7 linked regions of the Homo sapiens genome follow. The protein of the gene in region 5 interacts with the protein of the main gene of each other region in a pairwise test. Each region holds a gene or a part of one and is shown on either strand. Other genes may lie near its edges. The genes, in order: HSD17B13, HSD17B11, MMGT1, CRB3, ANKRD46, LDLRAD1 and CD46.

Region 1 (4,702 bases), on a different chromosome or scaffold from region 5:
GAGCTTTCATCATCCTAACTGAAACTCCATACTCATTAAACAATAATTCCCCATTCCTTTTCTCCTCATCCCCTAGTAACCACCTTACTGCTTTCTGTCTCTCTCTGTGTATTTGACTACTCTAGGTACCTCATATAAATGGAGTCATACAATATTTATACTTTTGCATCTGGCTTATTTCACTTAGCATAATGTCATTAAGGTTCATCTATCTAGTAGTATGTGTCAGAATTTCCTTCCTTTCTAAGGCTGAGTAATATTCCATTGCATGTATATATCATATTTTGTTTATCTGTTGATGAACACTGGGGTTGTTCCCACTTCTTGGCTATTGGAAGTTGCTATAGGCTGCATGTGTTCCTTCAAAATTCATATTATGAAATCCTATCTCCCAGTGTGATGGTTTTAGGAAGTGAGACCTTTGGGAGGTGATTAGGTCATGAGAGCTCTGCCATGGGAATAATTGCCCTTATACAAGAGAACACGGAGGGTTTCCTTCCTCCTTCTGCCACTTGAGGTGACAGTGAAATGACAGCCATCTATCAACCAGGAAGCCAGCTCTTACCAGACAAAGAATATGCCAGCGCCTTGATCTTGGACTTCTTGTGAGAAATAAGTTTCTGGAATTTATAAACCACCTGGTCAATGGTAATTTGTTACAGCAGCAGACAAAGACAGAAGCCACCCCACTTTAAAGTTGAGATTCCCGACTCCTGGTCTAATGCTCTTTCCAGTATTATCACAAAGGGAACTGATGGTTCTGTATCCTAAAATCTCCCCCAAACTCAAGAGATTTTCAGGGAAATGGTCATCATGTGTAAAATAATTAGCCAGTTGAAATATTGATGCTGAGCTTTTGTGAATAAATGAATCAAATAGCTAAGCTGGGTTCATTCAGACTTTATCTAAGTTTCTTTAAGCTTATCTCTACATTCTCCTTTTTCATATTGAAAAAAGGTAACAATTTCCAGAAAGATACCAACAGATCATTAGCTGATGCAGTATCTCCAGAATTCTTTTTCTTTTTTTTTTAGACCAGGCCTTGTTCTGTTGCTTAGGCTGGAGCGCAGTGGCACAATCACAGCTCACTGCACCACGAACTCATGGACTGAAGCAATCCTCCTGCCTCAGCCTCCTGGGTAGCTGGGACTACAGACACATGCCACCATATCCAGCTAATTTTTTTCTATAGTTTTTTTTTTTTTTTTTGAGACAGGGTCTTACTATGTTGCCCAGACTGGTCTCGAACTCCTGGGCTCAAGCAATCCTCTGCCTCAGCCTCCCAAAGTGCTGGGATTACAGATGTGAGCCACTGCACCTGGCCCCTAGAATTGTTTCTAGAGGTGAAACTTCAAGGTGAAATATAGTACATAACTGCTTTTCAGATAAACAAGTCCAGAGAGCACACTCTCTTGTGCTCTTGGCATCACTTGGCATCACTTCATATTTGAGGTGTTTCAAACCCATTAGAACACGTGAACAAGGCCTGCTTCCAAAGCTGGCTTCCATCTGGTAGTCCCATTAACAACTGGGCACACCCCTTCCCTAGAGCTCTGTGTAGACAGTACCTCCTCCCTAGGACTACACAAGGACTGAACCAGAAGGAAGAGGACAGAGCAAAGCCATGAACATCATCCTAGAAATCCTTCTGCTTCTGATCACCATCATCTACTCCTACTTGGAGTCGTTGGTGAAGTTTTTCATTCCTCAGAGGAGAAAATCTGTGGCTGGGGAGATTGTTCTCATTACTGGAGCTGGGCATGGAATAGGCAGGCAGACTACTTATGAATTTGCAAAACGACAGAGCATATTGGTTCTGTGGGATATTAATAAGGTAATGTATACATCTTCCAACTTTTTAAAGTCACAGAGTAAGATATGTATTTTAAGAATTATTTGACTTACCATCTACTTATCTTTGTATTTTTGTTTTTCAAAGTTTGATAAATTCCCTGGTCCCTTAGTCTGTATATGTGTCAGGTTAGTTAGATGAAGGGAATGTAATTAAGAACTAAGCAGCGATTTTTATGACATGGTGTGCAGGTTGATAGAAAGACTCAGGAGCCAGTCTCCTTCCAAGCTGCTAAATGAGGCAAGTCACATATTATCTCTCAGCCTGTTTTCTTGGCTCTGAAGTGGGGATAATAACTTAGGGGATGGGCAAGAACGGGATCTGAAAATTACAGCTACAAACAAAAGTCAAACGAAGAACTTGCAACAGAAACCTTTAGTGCCTCCCCTCATGCACAAGCAACACAGTTCTAAAATATTTACTGTCTGACCCTTTACAGAAAATGTTTGCCAGTCCGTAGTCAAAAGGATTAAATAAGTAATATTTTCAGCACTTAGCATATGATAAACGATACGTGGCACATGATAAACAATAACTGTGTTAAATAAAATATGTGCGCAGTGAGTCAGGCTTTTCCTTGGACATTAGTATTTTTCCTGTGTTCTTACTTGTAAACACTACATTAACAACCCCAAATAAAACTGAAGGAACTGAAATCTTGTATCATTTTCTCTAAACTTGTAAATTCTGGTAAGGCCATGAAAATATATGCAGAGAAGTGTTTACAGGATTTTAGGATTGGAAAAATTGTGAAGTACTCCTTGAGAATCACATTTTCTGCAAATTACAGTGGTTTTAATTACCATTATATTATTACTTTCTCATGTTCTTTGCTGTCATGTTTAGTTGAAACCTAAAATGTCTCTTACACTTAGAGAACTAATTCTTTTCTGTTTTTTTTCTGAATAGTGAAGAATACTATACAAAAAAGCTACTACATTTTTATTTAACAGATATGAGCATTTATATAATAGAGGAGTTGATGTATATAAAAATGATTTGCCATCTTTTTGGTCTTTGAAGAAATTCGAATGAACTTTCTGGAAGATAGCAAGAATTTACAAATAGAGAAAATTGTTGCCTGCTGTTCTCAGGCATTTGTCCAAAAATATAAATAAGTATAAATCTATGAAAAGGGCTTGATGAAATCTAACCTTCAAATCTCTTTCCAGATGTGTATTTTTGGGGAAAGGGCTATATTTATTAAGTTTTTTTTAAATTTTAAAATTTCCAGAGACAAGAGAAAAGTAAATTAGAAGGAAGTCGTATTAAAAATGACTTAAGGGCGGGTGCAGTGGCTCACACCTGTAATCCCAGCACTTTGGGAGACGGAGGTGGGCAGATTGCTGGAGCCCAGGAGTTCAAGACCAGCCTGGGCAGCACAGCAAAACCCCCAACTCTACAAAAAATACAAAAATTAGCTGGGTGCGGGGGTGCACACCCGTAGTCCCAGCTACTCGGGAGGCTGAGGTGGGAGGATCGTTTCAGTTCAGGAAGCCAAGGCTGCAATGAGCTATGATGGCATCATTGCACTCCAAGCTGGGCAATAGAGCCAGGCTCTGTCTCAAAAAAAATAAAAAAAGACTTAAGAAAAATAGGTAACCCAACCTCAAAAATTCTCTTTGAATCATTAAATTTCATGGTTAAACATTTAAGCTACTGAATGATTCACTCTAAGGCTGTAATGTAACTCAGATCTCCTTTAGGCGAGGAAGATGCTGGCTGAGTTTTCATCATAACTGGCTCCTTTTGCCCTGTGAGATGAGAGACACAGTAGCAGTTTGGCTCTTATGCAATCTAAACTGTTGCGTTGGGAATACGGTTCAAAAAACACATTGGAGTTTAAGCTAAAGCAAGTGTTTTGCTAACAAAAAGACAAGGCATCACATTTTGCAATTGTCTAGCTCAGTTATAAAACAGAAGAATAGGCCGGACGCGGTGGCTCACGCCTGTAATCCCAGCACTTTGGGAGGCCGAGACGGGCGGATCACGAGGTCAGGAGATCGAGACCATCCTGGATAACACAGTGAAACCCCGTCTCTACTAAAAATACAAAAAAATTAGCCAGGCGTAGTGGCGGGCGCCTGTAGTCCCAGCTACTCGGGAGGCTGAGGCAGGAGAATGGTGTGAACCCGGGAGGCGGAGCTTGCAGTGAGCCGAGATGACGCCACTGCACTCCAGCCTGGGCGACAGAGCGAGACTCCGTCTCAAAAAAAAAAAAAAAAAAAAAACTGAAGAATAATTAATTCTTCAATCAAAACATCTGATGAATGCTCTGGTAACTTATGCTCTCTACTGACCTAGAAACAAATGAGAGAGTATGGTGTGGTTTGTGCAATCTGGCAGTGAGCAAGCTACCAACTAAATCAGTGAAAGACTCTCCTATTCTTTTTTTACTCTTCTGCAATCCCACAAAAGGCTATTTGAGGGGATACTGACTTTGAGACTGGGTCCTAACATCCATGTTTGGGGAGTTCAGGCTGCTGCTCCAGGGTTTAGCCTACAGTAGCGAAATACAAAGGACCCAGAGACCACTCATTCAAGGTTTGCCCTAAATAGCAGCAACACCACTGTCATCTCAATACACGAAGAATAGGGCTTTTCAGGTATCCTTGCCTCTTTGTCACAGAGAAGAGTTTACAGATTGTGAGACGGAAAAGTATAATTTTTAAAACCTTATAATATTTTCTATAAAAGTCACCTGAGGTGAAAACTTGAAAAGAATTATAATTTTCCAGAATGTGAGTCAAGAAACATTAGAGCAATTTTATCTTAGGAAAGAGGTCTTTGAATTTAGGCTGAAAGTAAATTGCTCTGTCTCCATGTCCTATGGTTATGGGCAAGTTTGGT
Region 2 (3,968 bases), on a different chromosome or scaffold from region 5:
TTATAATTTCTTATGCCTGTAATCTCTTAATCCTGTTATCTTCATAAGCTGAGGATGTACGTCACCTCAGGACCACTGTGATAATTGTGTTAACTGTACAAATTGATTGTAAAACATGTGTGTTTGAACAATATGAAATCAGTGCACCTTGAAAAAGAACAGAATAACAGTGATTTTTAGGGAACAAGGGAAGACAACCATAAGGTCTGACTGCCTGTGGGGTCGGGCAAAAAAGAGCCATATTTTTCTTCTTGCAGACAGCCTATAAACGGATGTGCAAGTAGGAGAGATATTGCTAAATTCTTTTCCTAGCAAGGAATATTAACATTAATACCTTGGGAAAGGAATGCATTCCTACGGGGAGGTCTATAAATGGCTGCTCTGGGAATGTCCGTCCTATGTGGTTGAGGTAAGGACTGAGATACGCCCTGGTCTCCTGCAGTACTATCAGGCTTATTAGGGTGGGGAAAAACTTTGCCCTGGTAAATCTGTGGTCAGACCGGTTCTCTGCTCTCGAACCCTGTTTTCTGTTGTTTAAGATGTTTATCAAGACAATATGTGCACCACTGAACATAGACCCTTATCAGTAGTTCTGCTTTTTGCCCTTTGAAGCATGTGATCTTTGTACCTACTCCCTGTTCTTACACCCCCACCCCTTTTGAAACTCTTAATAAAAACTTGCTGGTTTTGAGGCTCAGGGGCATCATGATACGTGATGTCACCCCCAGCGGCCCAGTTGTAAAATTTCTCTTTATACTGTCTCTCTTTATTTCTCAGCCGGCTGACACTTATGGAAAATAGAAAGAAGCTACATTGAAATATTGGGGGCAGGTTCCCACAATATTTTTCTTTTACTGAAATCTCCCTCACAAACTGTAGTATACTCTCATGAGGAACTCTTATTCCTCAAGGGACATCAACATCTCAGGTAAACTTTATTTTGCTCTCCTATACTTAACCAGCAGCTTTTGGCATTTCCTTTTACAAGTATATTAATGTTGTATACACATAGGATAGAATATTATTCAGCCTTAAAAAGAAATGAATTTCTGACACATGCTACACGTACAACCTTCATTATGCCAAATGAAATAAGCCAGACACAAAAAACAAATACCATATGAATGTACTTATATGCAGTACCCAGAGTATCATATTCATAGAGACAGAAAATAGAATGGTTGTTGCCAGGACCTGGGGAGAGAGAGGGCTGGGGAGATATATTGTTTTAATGGGTACAGATTTTCATCTTGGGAAGATGAAAAATTTCTGGAGAGAAATAGAAGAGATCACTGCATAATAAGGTAAATGTACTTAATGCCACTAAACTGTACACTCAGAAATGGTTAAAATGGTGTGTTATGTCATATATTTTACCATATTTTAAAAAGTTTTTTAAAAGTATATTGTATTGGCCAGGTGCGGTGGCTTACACCTGTAATCCCAGCACTTTGGGAGGCTGAGGTGGGCAGATCACAAGGTCAGGATTCTGGGAATAGCCTGGCCAATATAGTGAAACCCTGCCTCTACTAAAAATATAAAAAATTAGCTGGGTGTGGTGGTGGGCACCTGTAATCCTAGCTACTTGGGAGGCTGAGGCAGGAGAATCACTTGAATCCGGGAGGCAGAGGTTGCAGCAAGCCAAGATTTTGCCACCGCACACCAGTCCGGGCAACAGTGCGAGACTCTATCTCAAAAAAAAAAAAAAAAGTATATTGTATTGATTGGGTCTTCTCTTTTTTGAACAAATATATTTCCTTACATGAACAAATTTTACAATAAAAATTTATGTCCCATTTATTCTGTTTTCAGAGATTTGCTTATTACTGGTTGGCTTTCTGTAACCACCAAGCAACTAACCACCACTCCACTATATGGATGCAAAGATACCCTTCTTTCACATCCGCTGTCTCACTTTTGCCCTGTTTCCTTGGTCTTCCTCATTTAGGTTGGTCTGCTTTCCACACCTTCTGAATTGTGAAACTTTTTTTTTTTTTTCTGAGATGGAGTCTCGCTCTGTCACCCAGCCTGGAGTGCAATGGTGCAATCTTAGCTCACTGTAGCCTCTGCCTTCCCGGTTCAAGTGATTCTCCTGCCTCAGCCTCCCTAGTAGCTGGGATTACAGGCATGCGCCACCACACCCGTCTAATTTTTATATTTTTAGGAGAAACGGGGTTTCACCATGTTGCCCAGGCTGGCCTTGAACCCCTGGCCTCAAGTGATCCTCCCATCTCGGCCTCCCAAAGTGCTGGGATTACAGGGGTGAGCCACTGCACCCGGCCGGTGCAACAAATTTAAGTTCTAAATTCCTCCAGAAAAAATTCCGGACAGTGCCCTGTAGATAGTTGGTAAGAAATAAAAAATAAGCAGATCTTCAAAAAAAAAATGAATTCTTCCTTTAAAATGTTTTGCAGCACAGTACAATTGCTCATAACTCTTCAAGATTTCCCTTGGTAACTTTTTTCAAATATGTTTGTCTATTGGTACAACTAAGACCTTTACACCCATTACCTTGATTACTAAAAATTGAAAAACTTTTTAAATTATGCCCATTATTCTTTCAGTTATTCATTAATTCAGTTTTTCATTCAACAAATAGTCTTTGAGCATATATTATATGCTCACCACTTACTGTAAATTTTTCTTTCCAAACTAGTATTTTAGGAAAAAGGGTCTCCCTGTTGCGCAGGTTGAGTGCAGTGGCTATTCACAGGCATGATCCCACTACTGAACAGCACCAGAGCTCTGACCTGTTCCGTTTCCAACCTGGCTGGTTCACCCCTCCTTAGACAACTTGGTCTCCTTCATGCCCACCGCCAGAAGGTACCATATTGATTCTGAACTTATGCAGACATGCAGAGCGCACCACAGTCCAGAACTCCCGGCCTCAAGCAATCTTGCTGCTTCAGCCTCCTGAGTAGCTGGGGCTACTGAAGCATGCCACCATGCCTGGCTACAAACTATTCTAACCAAGCATGGGAATGAGAATAGTCAAGAAGTGATAGATTATCACAAAGCAGAATGAATAATTCCCATTATCAGGCTTAGTGGAACAACAAAGCTGACACCACCATTAATTCTTCCCTAAATTAACATATGGTACATGTGGACACTGCTGTCCTCATTACATGGATGAATCTAAGAGATTGTCTTTGTACTCTAGGTGAAAGGGCCCTCCGTTTGGCCCCTCCCTGCCCTGCCAGCTAGATCTCATAACAATCAAACACCACTCCACTTTCTTCCTCATTCTCCAGGTATTCACCAGCCCAAGAGCTTCACATCTCCAGTTTCTGCTACCTGGACTGCTCCAAATCCCCACCCTGTCCTTTCCCAATCAGGTTTAGTGGTTCTCAGCCTTCTATAATTTCAAATCTATAAAACGGCAAGAAAAATAGAGTGGGATGTGTATACCGAACTAGGATTGCCAAACTTTTGGCCAAATAAGGACACTCAAAACTAACAAAATGACCCTCATATGTTATCATGTAATTTCATTAACAAATATATTTTTTACCCACAAAAAGTAGGAAGGATATAATCTCAAAATAAAATATAGATTATTTAAATTAAACTAATTTAACCTAATAAAAACTCACTACATTGTCCTCAATTTTTCTGACCATTACTCCGAATCTCTGCTACTGCCAACCCGGTTCAATAGTCCCCATCATTTCATCTCATGCCTGGATTATCACAGTAGTCTCTTACTTTACTTGTTCCTTCCATCTTTTCTCCTCTTACATCTCTCCTAAGCCCAGCAGCTGGAGGATCCTCTTCAATAGGAATTACCCTCAAAACCCTTCATTGACTCCCCAGAGTAAAAAGCCAAAATACAGGAAATTTTATCATCTGTAGCTCCAGCCCTTTAAATCTCTACACCGGTACTGTCTCATAGAAATATAACGCAAGCCATGTATATAATTTTAATCTTTCTAGTAGTCACACCAAAAAAAAAAAAAACAATCTAG
Region 3 (3,968 bases), on a different chromosome or scaffold from region 5:
CCTAAAGCACATTTCCTTTTCAAACCTGCATACAGTTATTCCCTTTTTACACCTATACAATTCAACAAAAGCAATGTTTTTATACCTGTACAATCCAAAAAAAGCAACGTTCTCTACAAAGAAATGTTGAGCTTCCTACAGCTCTCTAGCTCAAAGAGCTAGCCAATTTCCTTAAAAGTAAAATTACTGTTTCTAAAAATATCAACTCTGTATCCTCATCCTCACTTTCAGCAACATACAGTGAAGATGGAAAACTTGAAGACTGCTATAAACCAGAAACTACAAAACAATTTCTTAAATGACCTGATTTTCCTAAAAACCTTAAAAACATTAGTTCCAAATACTGAGAATATATTTGGCCCAATTCCTTTGAACTCTGTCTTTAGATTAATGACGAGTTTCCTTTATTTCACTTATTCACTAGTTTAGTATGAAATAAACAGAGTTTGAATCAGTTAAACTGGCTAATGACAATTTTCCTCAATGATTTTTCTTCTGCATAGGCATGATAATGAAATCACAAAAGGTCTTCAACTAGTCTTCAACTATTCTTACACTATATAATCAATTAGGGAAATTTTTACAGACAAATGAAGAGAACACAAGTAGCTTTACAGTAAGTTGAGCCTGTTACATATATTTGTTCTGACAAAGAATTTCTGACACAAAAATTGCTCACTGCACACAGAATCTCAGAGAAATGATGAAACAAGACAGCTGATGGTAGAAGGTATATGGGAGCAGGGTAGGGTGAAAAGTCACAAATAAATTAAAAACTGGCAAGTACTTCTGAAGCAGAGCCACTTTTTAGGGGACACAAGAAAAACTGTTAAATCACCATTTTGGTCTCATCAGGGAAGTCCATTTGTTAAGAATTGAAGACCATTTTACTATAATTCATGCTGCAAAACACAGCAGTCACACAGTATTTCCAAAAGGATTCCAAAAATTGTAGTGCAAAAGAAAAGAAATCTAAAAAAATAAATAATCACAAAAACCACCAACATTTTTCAAGGAAATGTGTTCAAAACAGTGGCTTTTACAAAAGATGTGGATTTGTTTTAAATGAAAAAAAAAATAATTCCTATATGAAATACCAAAGACTCATTTCACATATAACTTACACTGCATTAATGATTGGATTAACAGTATATAAACAAGGGCCATGGTTTTTTTTACTAAAGTAGGTCTGAAAGATCAATATAAATACTAATGGGGGCAGGGAGGAGTGTTTTATACCCCAAACTCCAATATTCCAGCTCTGTGTCCTGTCCTATTATTATAATTTGTAAAAATCTTAACGACGCAGTGATTCGAGTTTTCGTAACTTCAATGATGTGTTAGAGGACAATGCATCTTGGTTTGAAGAATTTGCTGTATCCGAAGGCCGGAAAAGTACTCGACCACGATGATTAAATACATAAAAGGATGGGTGATTCCTTAACGTATCAAATGTCCTTGAAAGAAGAAAAAAGCATCAATTTTAGATAAACCTTTATAAAACCCTACTTGAAAATAAGTAGGCTTCTAACGAATTATCAATTTACTATGGGTTATATTTTTTAACAAGTATTAATACATGAAATCAGACTGTAAATAATAATTATACTGTATCTCTTTTCCTATATAAAGAAAATAAGAAACCTGGAAAAGCAGCATATAGCTCTCAAATTTCTTCTTTTTAAAAAAAATAGAGATAGGGTCTCATTCTGTTGCCCAGGCTGGAGTGCAGTAGCACAATCATAGCTCACTGCAGCCTCAAACTCCTGGACTCAAGCGACCCTCTCATCTCAGCCCCCCAAGTGCTGGCACTACAGATGCGCACCACCACACATGGCTTTCTTTTATTATTATTTTTTGTAGAGACAGGGTCTCCCAATGTTGCCCAGGTGGTCTCAGACTCCTAGGATCAAGCAATTCTCCTACCTCAGCCTCCCAAAGAGCTGAGATTACAGGTATGAGCCATGATGCCCGGCTTCTAATATTTTTTTTTATCCAGCCATTCCTTCCAGAATGCCTATGAATAACAACACAAATACTAGCTCAACTATTAATCTCCCCTGTAAATCTAACAGTAACGCATGTCGAATAGTCTTTTTAAAAAAGCAGCACATAGATTACAGCTTTGATTATTCTCATTTGGCCCTCATTATTCAAGCCATATGATCGTTTCACAGATCTGTTTTCCAAGAATCTTTCAAGCACAACAAAAAATTCCTTTTGGCCCTCTGTACCTGCTATTGTCCAAACACATATTTTTCTACCACCTACTTAATGACATTGTTTTACTTCTTTCTTTCCTGGCCCCTTGCCTGTGATTCTTGGTAGACTCTTTGTAAGAGCAAGCAGTGATGACAGTAAAGTATCCTTTCTACTTTTCCAGTGAGAGATATGTAGTCTAAAAGAGTTCACAAACACCTTGGTGTGTGGCCTTTATGGTTTTTGTTTTTCAATATTATTTTCCTGGAAAGGATAGGAGAACTCTTCCTTTGACAAAAACTCAAATCTCAGCCCACCTAAACATCCAAGCATACTCCCATACAAAAAAGAGGCCTGATATGTAACTCCTTAAAATGTACATATTGGGTGGGGCACGTTGGCTCACATCTGTAATCCCAGAACTTTGGGAACCCAAGGCGGGTGGATCACTTCAGGTCAGGAGTTCGAGACCATCCTGGCCAACATGGTGAAACCCCGTCTCTACTAAAAATACAAAAATTAGCCGGGCATGGCGGCAGGTGCCTGTTAATCCCAGCTACTCAGGAGGCTGAGGCAGGAGAATCACTTGAACTTAGGAGGCAGAGGTTGCAGTGAGCCAAAATCATGCCACTGCACTCCAGCCTGGTTGATAGAGACTCTGTCTCCATAAAGAAAGAAAGAAATAAAAATAAATAAAATGTACATAATGAACTAAAAGGGGGATATGACTTTCCTCTAACACATAAATGTTCACTGTGACTCCTTCTAAGAAAATATTGTAAAGGGGCATCATGTCCAGGATCAAGAAGGTGGGTAAAGTCCAGAGATGGAACTGAACAAAGCTAAAGGATGATTTTAGGAAAGTAAAAATATGAAAAATAAAAGCAAACATAGCTCATGAAAATAGCTTAGAAGTAGTCCAGGAGAAAAAAAAGAAAGCAGAATAACAAATATACTTTTAATCCAGTAGTAGAAAAGGGCCTGGGAGCAGAGCTTATCTCACATACTAGGTTCAAGTGAGAGGGGAAACCGAAAACCACTTACTCTTCCAAAGACTAAGCTGGGACAAGAGGATAGAAAGAGGATGGTAGGAAGAGAGGGATGGAAGGAGTGAAAGGGGGAAGGGAGGGGGGAAGAAAGGGAGCAAGGAAGGAATGGAAGGAGAAAGGTTAAAAATTCTGAGGCATTATTTTTCTATATATCTATTTTCATCCATACAACCAACCAATAATTTTAAGCAACGTATTTTTTTGATTCTACTGTGAATAATCTGGCATTCATCTTCCATTTTCTTACAGTATCAAATACCGCCTCAATGTTTTTACCTCATTATTCATACAAACTGTGTAATCAAAATGCAGAAACAAAACCAACTTTTATGTATCAGAAAACATACTTTTTAAAATTATGTGAATACAGCAAACCTCTATGAAATGCAATGCCTATGAAAAGAGAAAGACTTACTTATTTTTCAGTTCTGAAGTGGCATCCATGTCTTTAAACTCTCCTGCAATATGAACTATACCGTAACAGGTAACTGCAAAGGCCAGAAGTGTCTGAAGAACTATCTGTGAGTATAAAGATTGATAATACTAAATAACACAAACATTATTATAAATATTTACAATTTTCTCTCTACCTCTTCATTGCCTCTAACAGGTAGTCCTCTCAGGGCCACCATCAGGGAGACAATGCTCACTTGAAATGACTGGGATTCAGACACAATACAATCTATAAATTCTGTGGATTGGCTGCAAAAATACCTCTGA
Region 4 (4,406 bases), on a different chromosome or scaffold from region 5:
GTGAATAGCCCCATCCTCTCTTGACCTCAGGGGCAGAGTCTTTGAAGTACCTTCTTCCCTGCTATTAAGCACTGGGTGGATCTGACTGCCCAGAGAGGGCACTGCCTTTCCCCAAGGTCACACAGCAATGAAGGGAGACAGATGCAGGAGAGGGGACCTAGATGGGCAGGCAGCCCTGCACCGTCTCCTTGGAGTCCTGAGGGGCCCGGGCCTCGGCTGCATGGGAGAACTGAAAGAAAGGAGAGGGGGTTGTGGGGCCTGCTGGACACACAGAGAAAAGTTGGTTCCGCAAGCAGGGGGGTGGGTCCCGAGCCCCAGCACCCTGAGCTGCAGGCACAGCCAAGCAGAGGCAACATGCTGCACAGAGCCCACCACATGGGTGCCCCCAGCCTCTCCCCACAAGTCCTCCTGAGCCATCAGAGGCTGGTGTCTCGGTGGCAGCTGCGGTGTACAAGCCAGCAACCCGCAGTCCTGGGCAGTGTTGGTGGCTGCAGCAGGCCCCAGCGTTCAGATGAGCCGCTCTTCCGGCGGCAACTTGAGGTTGGGGGTCGGTGGCACGCGGGCACCCACCTGCTCCTCGCTACTGGGCCGGTAGGTGCCCTCCGTCTGCCGCTTCTCCCGAAGCTTCCGCACCAACAGTGCCAGCCCCACAGCCAGGAGCAAGGCAGCCAAGAGGGAGAAGACCACGATGATAGCAGTGATGGCTTCTGGACGCTGCAGAGAGGGGACAGGTGTGAATCACCTGAGCCTGGGTAGCCTGTCCACCTCCACCTGAATGGCATCCCCCTCATCACCCCCTACCCCACAACACACACACACACATACACACATCTGCCACTTTTGGTGATCTGATCCCCACAGTGGGGCTTCCTGGATCCCTACCTACCTTGTCTGGGGTGCGAAGGCTCCCCACCACCTGCCATGTCCGGGACACCCCTCGCAAGCACCTGCCATGTCTGGGACTCCGGCTTTTTTTTTTGAGACCGAGTCTTGCTCTGTTGCCCAGGCTGGAGTGCAGTGTCACAATCTCGGCTCACTGCAACCTCCGCCTTCTGGGCTCAAGCAATTCCCCCTGCCTCAGCCTCCCAAGTAGCTGGGATTACAGGTGTGTGCCACCCCGCCTGGCTAATTTTTTGTATTTTTAGTAGAGACAGGGTTTCACCATGTTGGCCGTGCTGGTTTCAAACTCCTGACCTCATGATTTTCCTGCCTCGGCCTCCCAAGGTGTTAGGATTACAGGCGTGAGCCACCGCGCCCGGCCGGGACTCCTGCTTTCATCACATCTACCAAGTCTGAGCTCCTTGCTCCCCCACCCACCTGAGAGGCATATGGAATTCCTGAGCCCACACATCTGACAGCTACAGTATTCCTGCCCACTCCCTCCAGGGTGTCCTAGTCTTCTTGGTCTAAGACTTCAGGTCTCTCCTACTTAGAGCTCTCCAAAGCCACCCTGACCTGCCACCTCTGGGGGGAGGGGGTGTCTAGTCCTCTCTACATGCTATATGTGTGACCCCTAGATAACATCCTTGCTGCCATCTTCCCACATATACCTCCAACTCACCAGGTTGCCATCGGAGCTGGAGCTGGTGGATGAAGGCAAAACAGTGCTATTCTCATTTGCAGAAGTGGTCTGTACTGTGGAGGGTGAAGGCAGAGAATAACTCAGTCTCCATCTTTCTCTCCCATCCCCGCCCATCTGCACCTGCTTTGGGCATTCCCCTTCACCTCCCCCTAGCAGGTCCCAATTCAAACTCTGCCTTTCATTCGCACAGAGATGGTTGGGTGTCTTGCAGGTAAGACCTCTCCCTTGGGTGTTTGCTCCCCAGGACACCCCCCCGACCCAGTCCCGCAGAGCCCAGTAGGGTGTCCAGAAGTCCACCCCTCCCCTACTCACCTCTCGGCCCTGGGCCCTTAAGGATCTGGGCGGGCCTAGCTTTTCCCTGGAGTGTCTGACTCACACCTCCCCACAGGCTCCCAAAACAAATCTAAGACTGAATGGCTGGGGTCTACACCTTCAGCCAACCAGGTCGACCCGGCTCGGCAGGCCTCCTCCCAGCTCCCAGTTCACCCAAAAACACCTGCACTATACCAAGACTCAGGTACGCAGCCCTTACCTCCCCCCAAGTCCTACTTAGGAGCCCCCACTCCAACACACAATTCCACCTCGCTGGGGAACTCAGGTCTCCTAGACCAACTCCCAGTGTCCAAGGAAGAAACTAGAAATCTTAATCCCCCCGAGCCCTAACCCTGTAGACCCCTCCCCAAGGTATTTCTTCCCCGCTCCCCAATTCTTGACCCTCTCTGCGCCCCAGATACCCAGCGCTTCTAAGCCACGTCCCCAGCAGAGATCCAGGAATCCAGACCCCTCCCCCCCAGCGCTCTCAGCTGGTACCTACTTTGCCCCCAGGCTCGGCCCCAGCGGGCCAGCAGGAACGGCAGGCCCAGCGCCAGAAGCAGCCCCAGCCCGGGGTTCGCCATGGGCTGGGTGGCGGGTTGGCAGCGCCGAGGAAGGGGCTTCTCGCGCTCGCCCCTCCTACCGCATCTCCGGCCAGGGGCACCTGCGACGGGGCACCTGGGGACAGGAGAAGGAGAGGCCCAGGCGTTGGGATCGGGGTGGGGACCCCGGCGCAGGCCCACAGGAGAGACAACTGGCGCCAGGGCACCCATGAGTCCCGCCCCGCCCCAGCCGCCAGAGGTCAGCGATTAAAGATTAACTCCCAGGAGCGCGTTCCTGGGCTGGGGAAAGGAAGGGGACGGGACGGGACGGGACGGGACGGGCAGGGTGGACGGGCGAGGGGGCAGGCCTAGCGGTGCGTCCTGCCTTCCTACCTGGCCCGGGCGTCTTTGACCTAGCTCAGGTTCCTGGTCCGTGTCCCTCCCTCGAACCCTCGGTCCGTCGGTCGTTCTGTGGGTCCGACCCCACCGGCTCCGCCCTGTCACGTGACCCGGAAAGTTTAGTCACTCACCTGGGAGAGCGCACTTCCGGCTTGTGCACCTGAGCCTCGCTGAGAGGGCGGAGTCAAGAAGGGGGCGGGGCCGCGCTGTGGGCGCACCTGTAACGGGACCCCAGTCCCTTAATGGGGATGCGGGGAGGGAGACCGCGGAAGCGCGCAGGTGTGAGGGGGACCTTACACCTGCATTGCGAGCATATCTGTGGGAGCGCACAGGTGTGGAGACGCACGGGGTATGTATGTACCCGTGCACTAGGCACTCCTGCCTAGGGCAGACTTGGATGGGGAGCGCTTAATGAGAAAAAATACCTGCCCAGGCGCAATGGCTCACGCCTGTAATCCCAACACTTTGAGAGGCCGAGGCAAGAGGATTGCTTGAGGCCAGGAGTCCGAGACCAGCCTGGGCAACACAGCGAGGCCTCATTCTCTACAAAAAATAAATAAATAAATAAACAAATAAATAAAAAGAAGAAAATAAGCCGGGGGCGGTGGCGTGATCCTGTAATCCCAGCGCTTTGAAAGGCCGAAGTAAGAGAATCACTTGAGGCCAGGAGTTCGAGATCAGCCTGGCCCACAGACGGAGGCCCCATATTTACAAAAAATAAGAAAATTAGCCAGATGTGATGGCACGCACCTGTAGCCCCAGCTACTTGGGAGGCTGAGGTGGGAGGATCGATTGGGCCCAGGAGTGGAGGTAACAGTGAGTGAGCTATGATTGTACCACTGTACTCCAGCCTGGGTGACAAAGTGAGACCCTGTCTCTAAAAAAATTTTAAAAACAAAAAAACAGCTGTATGGTAAACACCTGTGTGGAACCAAACCTGTACAGAAGACAACTGCACAGGTGTTCACATATAAGAACATACAGAAAACAGATGGCCGGGTGCGGCGGCTCACGCCTGTAATCCCAGTACTTTGGGAGGCCTAGGCAGGAGGATCACCTGACGTCAGGAGTTCGAAACCAGACCAGCCTGCCCAACATGGTGAAACCTTGTCTCTACTAAAAATACAAAAATTAGCCGGGTGTGGTGGCAGGTGCCTGTAATCTCAGCTACTCGGGGGGCGCTGAGGCAGGAGAATTGCTTGAACTCAGGAGACAGAGATTGCAGTGAGCCGAGATTGCACCATTGCACTCCACCCTGGGTGACAAGAGTGAAACTCCATCTCATAAAAAAAAAAAAAAATCTGCATTGAATCACAGCTATACGAAATATAGCCAAGGCTGGGCATGGTGGCCCACGCCTGTAATCCTAGCACTTTGGGAGGCCGAGGCAGGTGGATCACGAGGTCACGAGTTCGAGACCAGCCTAGCCAAGATGGTGAAATCCCCGTCTCTACTAAAAAATAATCAAAAATTAGCTAGCGTAGTGGTGGGCGCCTGTAATCCTAGCTACTTGGGAGGCTGAGGCAGGAGAATCGCTTGAACCCTGGAGGCGGAGGTTGCAGTGAGCCGAG
Region 5 (3,968 bases):
CTTCAGGTCTTCATACGACTCACTAGTTGCTCTCCTGACCATTTATCCTAGAGAAATGAAGATTTACAGTCACATACAAACAAATGTTTGTAGAAGCTTTAACAATGGCCAAAAACTGGAGACACCAGATGTCCTTCAGTAGATGAACTGTTATATTGTGGTACACCCATGCCACGGAATACTACTATGGATAAAAAAGGGACAAACTATGGATACACACAGCTACCCTGGATGAATCTCCAGAGAATTATACTGAGTGAAAAGACCAATCCCAAAAGGTTCCTGTATGTGCTGTATGGCTCCATTTATACAACATTCTTGAAATGACAGAATTAAAGAAGTGGAAGACTAGGTAGTGTTTTCTAGGTGTTAAGGAGAGACTGGCATGGGAGGGAAGCAGGAATAGCTAAAAAGGGCAACATATGAGAGATTTTTCATGGTGATGGAAATGTTCTGTATCTTGACTATATCAATGTCAGTATCCTGGTTGTGATGTTGTACTATAGTTTGGCAAGATGTTACCATTGGGGGAAACTGGATAAAGGGTGCACAGGATCACTCTGTGTTATTTCTTACAACTGCATATGAATTTATAATTATCTCAAAAAGTTTAATTTAAAAAAGTCTTTAGTCCTCTTCACCCATTGGACAATCGTTAAATATGTGCTCTGATTTGTATTCACTTTATGACTTCTTAGGGAAGCTATTAACAGAGTCTAGTGAGTAAGGTCTAACTGAGGTCTTGGAAGTTTTCTTGGCAGGTTTCTAGTAATTTAGTCTAATGAATTTGTATAATATTATTATGAAATCATACAAATCTGTAATTTGTTCAAGTGTATTTTCTTATGGGCCATTGTAATATCCAAAGAAAATGGCAGGCTGGTTGCGGTGGCTCACGCCTGTAATCCCAGCACTTTGGGAGGCCAAGGTGGGTGGATCACCTGAGGTCAGGAGTTCAAGACCTGCCTAGCCAACATGGTGAAACCTCATCTCCACTAAAAATACAAAAATTACCCAGGCATGGTGGCACATGGCTGTAGTCCCAGCTACTGGGGAGGCTGAGGCAGGATAATTGCTTGAACGCGGAGGCCTCTGCAGGTGAGTCGAGATTGCACCACTGCACTCCGGCACCAGCGACAGAGTGAGACTCTGTCTCAAAAATAAAAAAAGAAAAAATTGCAGAAGCATTGTCCTTCTTGTGGATTTAAGAGAACATTAGGATTATTTGGGGGCATGACCATATGAACTATAATTCCATCTCTAGATGAAAAACAAAATTTTTTCTTTTTCCCTAATGTGAGCTCTACCACATCCAGAATAACCCACTTGCACCATTTTAATTAACATTGAAAATTAAAGCCAAATCATACATTAGAGACAGGCTCTAGTCGTTAAAGACTCAGCTCTAGAGGTCAGGACAAGAGAGGAAAAATATTAGGCTTTGGGTGAATACATAATATTTGTTTAAGGAAATCAAGGTAAGTGGCTCCGTGATATGAAGTTCGTCTAAATTGATACTGTGGTATCACAAAAGAAGTAGGAAATGAGGAGCGTAGATGTTTTGTGTGTTATCATGTCTTCGTGATATTTACTGACCCTCGTGTGGGACTGGTCCTCAGGTACAGTTTGTCAGCTATTGTCATCAGTTCCAGCCTAGCACTGATAGCCTTTATGATACAACCTGACTTACATATTGTAAATGGAGCTTTGTAAAATACCATTAATTATTTCCCTATATAAATTTGTTCACAGGGATTTGATAACAATGAACAAGGATGATCGGTAAAAAGTTAACCTGTATTTCACCCTGACCAGGAATTTGGGATTTGGACTTGATAGCATGGTATCTGGCACATTGCAGGCACACAGTGAATGTTTGTTTCATGAACTAATATTGCTATTTTTGTGGTCCTTACTGCCTGCCCATGACCCTGCTTCCACGGTCCTTCCAGAGAAGAGCTGAGTGGGCAGACAGGGTGCCCTCGTAGTCTCTCTCAGTGCAGAGAAGTGCAGCCTGGGTGGGGGAGCAGCGTCAGGCTATGTAAAGAAGACTACAGATAGACTTGGGCCAGCTTTTATTTCACACTGAAAAGACAAGGAAGGGAACAGATTTAAAGAGATTTAAGTACCAGCATTCAAGGTAGATTAGAAATACTTTTTCTTAAATGTATCCTGTTTGGTTTAAATATAAGTATTGGCTTTTTAAACTTATTTTTTCCCACTATGAATAGTATTTTATTTATAAAAATGCTTTTGTGGACTAATCTGGGATCTAGCCTCCATTTATAATGTGAAAAATATGCATTCTGAATTCCAAGTAATGACTGAGAGTGAATTTTCGGAGCCCAATTTGTTCTTTAGTGATGGCACATAATTTGATTCTTATTCTTTTATCTTTCTGTCTTGCTTTCTTGTTTGTGGGCCACAGAGCAGCTTCTATTAAGCCCTTCTTTGCTTCCTTTTCACTACTTTGTTACTCGTCAGATATTTTTCTGGCCTCACAAGTTGATGCCTCACCTACAGATTTTCTAGAGAATTTCTTCAGGCTCAGTAACCTGTCTGTATTTAATAGAACAGTGAGTTCTTTTTCTCACCACACTTCTATTATAACTTAATTTTCTATTTACTGTAGATCCTTGCCAGCACATTACAGAATATTTTTGTTGAACCTTCTTGAGAATTCAGAGAAACTGCTGAGTGACCACTGAACGAAAAGATCTAATCTTAAGGCTTACGTGAGTATTTACTACTGTGGACTTCCTCACAAGATGTGAAACCTTCAGTGAACTGCTTTAGGACAGATTCAGTTCTGTGATCAAGATGAAAAATAACTATCATTGGGCTTATTAAATGTGGGATTAAGTTTAGTAGTTGCTCAGGGACACAGAGAAACTGACAAAATACACACTTGTTCTCACCTGAAAAATAGACACAGAGACTTGTATTTCTTGCTGAGCCAACACTCAGAAGTATCCTAGTCTGCAAACCACAAGAATTCTTACTGTGTCTGAATCAAAAACACCAACTAGATTTTTTAAATTATCTATTTTTAAAAATTTAACCAAAACACATTACCTTTTGAAAAGCACTTGATATGTGGCATTTCATTTTGAAAAAGGTTTATGATAGCTTTTCCATTTTTATGATTCAATACTGTGCAAGCTTGTCCAACCTGCAGCCCAGAACAGCTTTGAATGTAGCCCAACACAAATTCATAAACTTTTAAAAAACATTCTGAGATTTTTTTTGCAATTTTTTAAAGCTTATCAGCTATCATTATGTATTTTATGTGTAGCCCAAGACAATTCTTCTTCCATTGTGACCCAGGGAAGCCGAAATGTTGGACACCCTTGCTGTAAGGGAAAATATTTAGATTACCCTCGCAAAAGAATTCTTGACTATTTTATTGAGTAAATTCTTCTCATTGAGTTTTTCTGTTTGTTGGTTTGGTTTGGTTTGGTTTGGTTTGTTTTTTTGAGACAGGCCTCACTTTGATGCCCAGGCTGGAGTGCTGTGGCTCAATCACAGCTCATCGCAACCTCGACCTCCCGGGCTCAAGTGATCCTCTCACCTCAGCGTCCCGAACAGGTGGGACGAAAGGCGCGCGCCACCATGCCTGGCTAATTTTAAAATATTTTATAGAGACAGGGTCTCTCGCTATGTTGCCCAGGCTAGTTTCGAACTCCTGGGCTTCAAGCTATCCTCCCATTTTGGCCTTCCAAAGTACTGGGATTACAGGTGTGAGCCACTGTGTCCAGCCAGATTTTTAAAAAGTCATCATATGTATCATAATCTGAAGTTTATTTTGATTTTAATCTCTGTAGTTTTTAATCATAAACTTTTTTTCGTATTTGAAATTATTCTTAACAGCCCCTTTTCACCCTTCATTTCATATCCAGTGAGTCATTAAGTTGTGCTAATTCTGTCTTCTCTGTTCCTCTCCAGTGCGTCCCCTTCTGCCTGCCACT
Region 6 (3,500 bases), on a different chromosome or scaffold from region 5:
GGGTGGCTTCCCACTGGTAGGATGCCAGATATCCTGTTTCATGTGCTGTGTCACTTGGTTAAATCAGTAGAGCCTGCTGGGTTAACTAAACTGGGGAAGATGCTAAAGTTGCATCCAAGCCCAGTATATCTGCCTTAGGTACCAAAGGGGTAGGAAGTGGCATATGTTTCACGTATGTGCCATCCATGAAGGCTAAACTCGGCTTGTCATTTAAGCCCCAGACATGTCATCACTCTAAGGGATGACGAGATTAGGATCCACAAGTATGCCTTGGAGCAGTTAGCAGATTTCCTCTGTGTGGCCCCAGAGACAGGCATGAAATCATGGAAGCAGATTCCCTTCGTCTTTGTTTGTGTTTGTGTTTTGTTTCATTTTTTTTTTGAGACAGGGTCTCACTGTGTTGCTCAGGCTGGAGTGCAGTGGTGTGGTCACAGCTCACTGCAGCCTTGACCTCCTGGGTTCACACAGTCCTCCCACCTCAGCCTCCCTAGTAGCTGGGACTATAGGTGTGCACCGCCATGCCTGGCTAATTTTTGTATTTTTGGTAGAGACGGGGTTCCACCACATCATCTTTGTTAGAAGCCACCTAACATGGTAATGAGCTCCTGGTCATTGGAAGCATTCAAGCAGAGGCTGAACAACTTGAAAGGAGGAGAGAAAATTCCTATTCAGAAATGATGTGTAGATCCCATTTCAAAGGCTGCTTCCTGCCCTTGTGCGCTAGGATTTGATTTTCATGTGAAGGGTTATCAGTGCCATTCCAGCCAGCCTTCCATGCTGGCCTGAGTGGCCCACTCAGGGTCCGGGACAGGCATACTCATCGGACCAGTCGGAGCAGTGCTGTACATGGTCGCGGCAGAGATGCCTCGGTATACAGTCGCAGTACTTGAAGAAGGTTGAAGGACAGCGCCACCACCCAGGGCCGCAGGGTGGGCACACAGTTACTGCAGAGACAAGAGCCAGCAGGAGAGCAGTTGCTGTGTCCTGGAACGCTCTGTGCACCAGGGCACTCCCTAGTTCTGAAACCTGCCGTAGCTCCCCATGGCCCCAACCCATCTGACGTGAGTTGAGTGTGTTCCTAGTTTTCCTGCGGCAGAGAGAATCTAGACTCCACAGCTCACAGGCTATGTGACCTCCCTCACCCTGTCTGAAACTGTTTCCTAGTGTGCTCAAGCTTGTTATCAAGCAAAGGATGTCAGGCAAAGTCCCAGGCACACGGTAAAGACTGCAATATGAATGGGTGCCCTTCCTTACCCTGAGTCCAGCTATGCTCACCTGCCATGACTGCCTGAGGGTGCTCCTAGCCTTCTCTCCTCTGCTCAGGCCTCCGGCATTCCTCCCCACACACCCAGCCTCTACCTACTGAAACCCGTCTATTCTTGGTCTTCTTGAATGCTACCTCTTCTGAGAAATCTCCCTTGATTCCTCCAGGTCCCCAGCACCTCCTTTCGGCATCAGCATGATGTGAGTCCTGGGGGTAGGACACATGCCTGATTCCTGATGTCCCCCACCTGAATCTGATACCAGGTGCGTTCTGAGCACCCCACCAATGCTCAGAACATGTTTGTTGATTGACCACTGGGGAAGAGATTGAGAGGAAACTCTAGGGCAGCTACAGGACTCGGGACTTGGATCAGGAGGCCTGGGTTCACACCTGAGCTCCCTTCCTGTCACACATTGTACTAAGTTTCTCCTCTCAAAGCCTCCATTTACTTACATACAAATTGGGGCCAGTGATTCCTGCCCTGCTTTCCTCACAGGGTCACTGGGAGGTGCAGAGATAAGGGAACCCCAGGTTCAAATCCCAGCTGGGCCATGTATGTACTCCTTGCATGACCACCTTCTGGGACCCAGTTTTCTCATCTGTGCCTTTGAAGGTGACTTCCCCACTGCAGAAGAATGAGCCTCCAGAAAAAGTCACTTGGAGTGGTAGTGAGTACCCCATCACAGGATGTATTCAAGCAGGGGTAGAAAACTCCTTCCTAGGATGCAGGGAAGCATGCAAGGGGGAGCCCTAGAGATTCCCTGCTCACCCTTTGCCCTCTGGCTGCTGCCTGGACACCAGCCCCAGCCCAGCCTGTGCCCAGACCCCTACCTGGGCTCAGTTCATCTGAACAGTCCCCGCAGTTGTTAGTGCCATCACATTTTTGGTCTGAGTAGATCCAGGAGGCCGGGTCTCCACAGTGGGCCACAAGGAAGTGGGGGAGGCTCTGGGGCACATCTCCTGTAGAGGTACAGAGGAGGCAGGAAGAAGTCCACATCTGGCCACAGCTGTCTGAGGGTTATCGGGAGGAGGATTGACCACCCTGGCAGTGGCCAAACTCAGGATCAGTGCCCATCCAGCCCAGAAGGGTGCAAGCAGAAGGTTTCCTGGGGAGGTGGTGGAGTCAGAGGGAGAGGAGAGCTCCGTTGCTGGACAGAGGCCCAGAGATCTGCCCCTCCCTTCCTCAGTTCCTCCCCAGCTCTGGTGTGTTCCTGCCCCACACCACTGCTGACACTATGCCCCCCTCCACAAAGAGCCTCCTTGACACCTATCCAAAACCATTCTTTCAAGTTCAGGTTCAAGTTCCATCACCTCCAGGAAGCCTCTTCCAACTGGAACATCACAGGAATAAATGTGGAGTCTTACAGTTGGGCCCCGGATCTCAGGGGAAGATCTAGGGTTCACACACCTTGTAAGGCAGAGTCAGAGCACCTTTCTTGAAAGTGTGTTCTGTTAGGCAGCAGTGTGATAGGGCTATCAAAAATTCACACAAACTCAGGCCACATCACTAGAGGTAGAAAACCTTGGGCAGGGAGGGAGCAAGATTCTGTTCGTTAGACTGCCCAGACCCAGCTAGAAGGGCTGAGGATGTTTCTGAGGCCTGTCCAGGGACGGGGACATGGGAAGTTGATATTCATTCTGTGGAGCATTGATGGAGTGGGGAGGGCCAGGAACTGGGTCACAAGGGGGCTGACTGTGACCTGGAGAAGGGGATGTGGCGTAGAGAAGAGAAACCTCATGGAGGGCAAGGGAGCAATCTTCAAATCCATGCAGCACCACCATCATGGCAGAAATTAAAGTGTGGTCTATCGGGGCAGGGTTGACAGAAGGACAGAGTTGGAACCAATCAGGGAGGAACCACTCTGGGAGGCAGCTCTAAGCCTGGGACAAGGAAAACCTTCCCATGGAAAAACCTTCCAATCCTTGCATCCCCTGGGATGCAAGCAGAGGCTGGGTGGCCTCGGTTGGGCTTGCTAGAGAGGGGATTGGGGATGAGCTGGGGCAAGGACTAGATGCTTTTGAGATTGCTTCTTGTCCTGAGGGTCTGTGATGCAATGACTCTCCCTCCATGAGCTCCCCCACCCCACCCACTGCACCTCTCCAGGCTCTCTCTCTCCTGTGGGGTCAGGCTCCTCTCTCCTGAGAACCTTCAGGTGTGTCTAAGGTCTGGGGCCAGGTCTTCCCATTCATTCATTCGCTCATTCATTCAGCAAGCCGTTCTGAATACCCCTCTGTG
Region 7 (3,968 bases), on a different chromosome or scaffold from region 5:
TTAGGTATGTGCTGAACAGAGGAAGAGAAAACGGCTGAATAAAATAGTGACTTCAAACCAAAAAGAAACGAGTAGCATAACAAGTGGGATAAAATCCAGTGTAAGAGAGTAGCAGGAAAGCTGAGAATTAGGTTCATAACTTAAGACTTTCTCATTCTCACTGAAGGACTGGAAACATGAATTTTGTGCTAGAAGCTACTTGAACTTTGAAGTCATATAGATCATCCAGCAGATAAACAGACTGGAAATTCCTGTTTAATATGTTTATCTTTGAAGCCATTTTGCATGAAGTGATTCATGTCAAAATGTTTTCAAGGAATAACAGATTGTTGGGGAGAAATGGTACCGGTCTCTAGCACTCTTGATTTTTTTTTTTTTTTTTTTTTTTTTTTTCAAGACACAGCATCTCACTATGTTGCCCAGGCTGATCTCAAACTCCTGAGCTCAAGCCATCGGCCTGCCTCGGCCTCACAAAGTTGCTGGGATTACAGGCGTGAGCCACCAAACCCGGCCTAACACCCTCAATTTTGAGGGAATACATTGAGTATGTATCAAATCCATGTAATATTATCTAGAAATCAACTTTATGACATCATGTATTTTCAGATGTCTCTGGACTTTTACATTAAGAAGTGTCTTCCTGTGGCACATCTGTTTTCAACCTGAGGAGACATCGTTGCAAAACTTTGTATTACATGGCGTCTCATATTTCTGAGATGGATCTAATTTTGTAAGGATGCTTTCTAAACTAATTACAAAACATTTTTGTAGTTGCTCAAAAATTTTTGAAGGGTTAAATGCTCAAGAATTTAAGGGCCAACTAGAAAAACATTTAAGTTAATTTGATCCTTTTTTTGCCCCATGTCACTATATGCCCCAATTACCTGAACTGACCACTATTTTTAATAAAGTAATTGGGTCAGTCAATATTAATGTAACATTAAAAGTCAGTTTAGGTTATACAAAATAATAAATACCATTAATGGAAAAAAGGAAAAACTATTTGTCACAGGTAATAAATATATAAATTATGTAAATAACTTTCACTAACTTAGCCAAACTGTCACTTATCCAGGGATGCTTAACTAGAGTTAAAAAATAATCATGCATTTAAAAAAAACCATTACTTAAATATTTATGTAAACAAAAGGCATCTGTTGTTCAGAAGCACAGTCATGCCATGCAATACAGGACTGAAGCAGTAGCAAAGACAGGGCTGTGGCTTCCAAGACTAAAAAGTATGGTAGAAGAATTAGTAAAGAAAGGAAATGGGAAGGGAAAAGGAGGGAGCATGTGGATGGGACCTGTTTCGGACCCACTGGTATCCTATACTGTTCTCAGCTGAGAGCTATGAAACAGAAAAGTGGCAGAATACTTTAACCTTTTGCCCACTTTTTATCAAGTAATGTAAATGATGTTGGATGATCTTAAAATGACTCCTTACACTATTTTTGTATTTTGAGATGAAGGCTGCAGAAGAGTAATTACGTTCCCAAATCACCATAAATACCAGTTTACAAGAAATACATTTTGTGCCAGGCTTTAACAACAATTTGAGATTATTTGTGCCTGCTAGCCTGCTTCCAGTTACCCCCGGAAGTGGAGAAGTGCCTCCAGACATTTTATAGTCTTTATAAGAAGTTTCTAAGGCCACAACAGCCAATCTGGGGGGACAAGATTATGGACATTAAACAGTGCAAAGAAAATAATGGAAATCTTTGGGGTTTTTTTGTGTTTTTTGTTTTTGAGATGGAGTCTCACTCCGTCACCCAGGCTGGAGTGCAGTGGCGCAATCTCGCTCACTGCAAGCTCCGCCTCCGGGGTTCACGCCATTCTCCTGCCTCAGCCTCCCAGAGTAGCTGGGACTACAGGCGCCCGCCACTATTTTTTTTTTTTTTTTTTTGTATTTTTAGTAGAGACGGGGTTTCACCGTGTTAGCCAGGATGGTCTTGATCTCCTGACCTCGTGATCTGCCCGCCTCGGCCTCCCAAAGTGCTGGGATTACAGGCGTGAGCCACCAGGCCCGGCTGGAAATCTTTGTTTTTTAAGAGTTAAAGAAGGTAAGAAAAGCCAAGTACTATTTATTACCCCATAGCCTTTTTTTAAGGATACACATGGATGAGGAATCTTAAAAACTTCAATTATCTTAAATATTAGAAAAATTTGCCAATAAGCTTCATAGTGTTTCTTCAGACTTCAACAATATAGGCACATCAGTAGTGGGCAACACCCTGGTCAGTGTAGCCCAGGCACAGCAGCAGCATCAGCACTGGGAGCTCACTAGACAGGCAGGGTCTCAGGCTCCACCCCAAACCCAATGAATCAGAATCTGTACTTTAACAGATTTCCAGGTGACTAATGTGCACATTAAAGTCAGAGAAACATTCCTCTAGACTCTGAAGAAGAAAGATAAACCACCCTCACATTCAGTTCAGCTATCAAAATAACATGGAACTACAAAATAATAGATCCATAAAGAGAGCCTAGCTTTGGATTCAGCCATTACATATGCTGAATTTCCAATCGAGTATGTTCCTGTCATAAAAAGGGTAACATCTATTCTAAAAGATTCCCACGCAGTTTATATTTTAAAGTTCAAAGGCAATTAGGAGTTTCGTCTCTCACACCATTTTCTGGACTATTTTTCCTCAAGTTGTGCTACTATTTGCAGGATTAATTATGTTGCATTGGCTAAAGATATCATACCTTCCCAAAATATTTTAAAATTTTAATAATGGCAACTGTCAGTTGGACCCTATGCTGTAAAATATGGGCTTTAAAAAAAAATCACTGGACAAATTAATTTTGGAATCTCAGTTCACTACTGCTATTGAACCTTTCATTTGGGAGTGTAACAGTCAGATAACTGTTGAGCTTTAAAAGACCCATTAAGGCCGGGCGCGGTGGCTCATGCCTGTAATCCTAGCACCTTGGGAGGCCGAGGTGGGCGGATTACCTGAGGTCAGGAGTTCAAGACCAGCCTGACCAACATGGTGAAACCCCATCTCTAGTACAGGTACAACAAATTAGCCGGTGGTGGTGGTGCACGACTGTAATCCCAGCTACTCGTGAGGCTGAGGCAGAGAATCCCTTGAACCCAGGAGGCCAAGGTTGCAGCGAGCCAAGATTGCGCCATTGCACTCCAGCCTGGGTGACAGAGCAAGACTCCATCACAAAAAAGCAAAAAACAACAACAGAAAAACCATTAACTGCTAGCTAGAGAGAGTTTGATTAATACTTGTTAATGAACCTTTAAAAATTCTGATGCAGTGATATTTTAAACAAAGAAGGAAAATAAGCAGAATGCGACTTTGTTTTGTTTTCTTTAGAACTTGTTTCTACGCAAACCTTATGGATTTGTAAAAATATTCCATTGATAATATTTTGTACTCACGTTGTAGATATGTAACTTTTAGAATATACAACTGATAGATAAATCAAATATGCATATCGTGTTCCATTAATACAAGATTTAAGATTCAAGTGAAGGGATTATGGGTATTTCAAAAGATAACCAAGTAATATGAAAAAAGTTTGAGTTCCTTATGAGTAAAGCTTGTACTTTTATGACTTAGCCCAAACCTGATGATCAGTATAAAAGGAATATATATCATAAAACCATGAGTACCAAAAGTCTTAAAATTATTAGGTTTGATTTCAAAGCTATTTCTAAAACTATAGGGGAAAACAGTTTTTAAAAATCAGTAAAAATGAATGTATATTATCTTTCAGAAATTTCAAAGCACCTAATCTTAGTCTGTGTTCCAGGATTCATTCTAAGTCTTTTGTTAAACTGTAAGCTCTTTAACTAAAATTTGAGTTTGATGTTTTAAAACCCTATTTTCTTTAGAAGATATGTACTTGTACATTTTTCTTCTATTCTAAACCCACTCACTTTTTACATTTTTATATATTAAAAGACACAGTTAATTGAGGTACCTTATAGATCTAACCCCTCTCAGCAATTT

The links.
Region 1: the proteins of ANKRD46 (region 5) and HSD17B13 interact in binary tests that used the Homo sapiens proteins (3 or more experiments, as listed by UniProt).
Region 2: the proteins of ANKRD46 (region 5) and HSD17B11 interact in binary tests that used the Homo sapiens proteins (3 or more experiments, as listed by UniProt).
Region 3: the proteins of ANKRD46 (region 5) and MMGT1 interact in binary tests that used the Homo sapiens proteins (3 or more experiments, as listed by UniProt).
Region 4: the proteins of ANKRD46 (region 5) and CRB3 interact in binary tests that used the Homo sapiens proteins (3 or more experiments, as listed by UniProt).
Region 6: the proteins of ANKRD46 (region 5) and LDLRAD1 interact in binary tests that used the Homo sapiens proteins (3 or more experiments, as listed by UniProt).
Region 7: the proteins of ANKRD46 (region 5) and CD46 interact in binary tests that used the Homo sapiens proteins (3 or more experiments, as listed by UniProt).

Annotation. Positions count from the first base shown.
Region 1 is NC_000004.12:87,319,764-87,324,465, reverse strand, and holds the start of HSD17B13 (17-beta-hydroxysteroid dehydrogenase 13 isoform A precursor), read left to right. Parts: upstream 1-1,583; 5' UTR 1,584-1,624; coding exon 1,625-1,834; intron 1,835-4,702. UniProt on the Homo sapiens protein: Plays a pivotal role in hepatic lipid metabolism. In vitro, it catalyzes the oxidation of a variety of lipid substrates, including 17beta-estradiol, retinol, retinal, and leukotriene B4.
Region 2 is NC_000004.12:87,384,221-87,388,188, forward strand, and holds part of HSD17B11 (estradiol 17-beta-dehydrogenase 11 precursor), read right to left. Parts: intron 1-3,968. UniProt on the Homo sapiens protein: Can convert androstan-3-alpha,17-beta-diol (3-alpha-diol) to androsterone in vitro, suggesting that it may participate in androgen metabolism during steroidogenesis.
Region 3 is NC_000023.11:135,963,727-135,967,694, forward strand, and holds part of MMGT1 (ER membrane protein complex subunit 5), read right to left. Parts: intron 3,768-3,968; coding exon 3,664-3,767; intron 1,458-3,663; coding exon 1,298-1,457; 3' UTR 1-1,297. UniProt on the Homo sapiens protein: Part of the endoplasmic reticulum membrane protein complex (EMC) that enables the energy-independent insertion into endoplasmic reticulum membranes of newly synthesized membrane proteins.
Region 4 is NC_000019.10:6,462,774-6,467,179, reverse strand, and holds the start of CRB3 (protein crumbs homolog 3 isoform a precursor), read right to left. Parts: upstream 2,910-4,406; 5' UTR 2,830-2,909; intron 2,573-2,829; 5' UTR 2,479-2,572; coding exon 2,397-2,478; intron 1,636-2,396; coding exon 1,562-1,635; intron 715-1,561; coding exon 508-714; 3' UTR 230-507; coding exon of another isoform or gene 158-229; 3' UTR 1-157. UniProt on the Homo sapiens protein: Involved in the establishment of cell polarity in mammalian epithelial cells. Regulates the morphogenesis of tight junctions.
Region 5 is NC_000008.11:100,531,976-100,535,943, reverse strand, and holds part of ANKRD46 (ankyrin repeat domain-containing protein 46), read left to right. Parts: intron 1-2,632; 5' UTR 2,633-2,735; intron 2,736-3,483; exon of another isoform or gene 3,484-3,588; intron 3,589-3,968.
Region 6 is NC_000001.11:54,008,187-54,011,686, forward strand, and holds part of LDLRAD1 (low-density lipoprotein receptor class A domain-containing protein 1), read right to left. Parts: intron 2,225-3,500; coding exon 2,096-2,224; intron 945-2,095; coding exon 796-944; 3' UTR 1-795.
Region 7 is NC_000001.11:207,786,296-207,790,263, reverse strand, and holds part of CD46 (membrane cofactor protein isoform 3 precursor), read right to left. Parts: intron 12-3,968; coding exon 1-11. UniProt on the Homo sapiens protein: Acts as a cofactor for complement factor I, a serine protease which protects autologous cells against complement-mediated injury by cleaving C3b and C4b deposited on host tissue.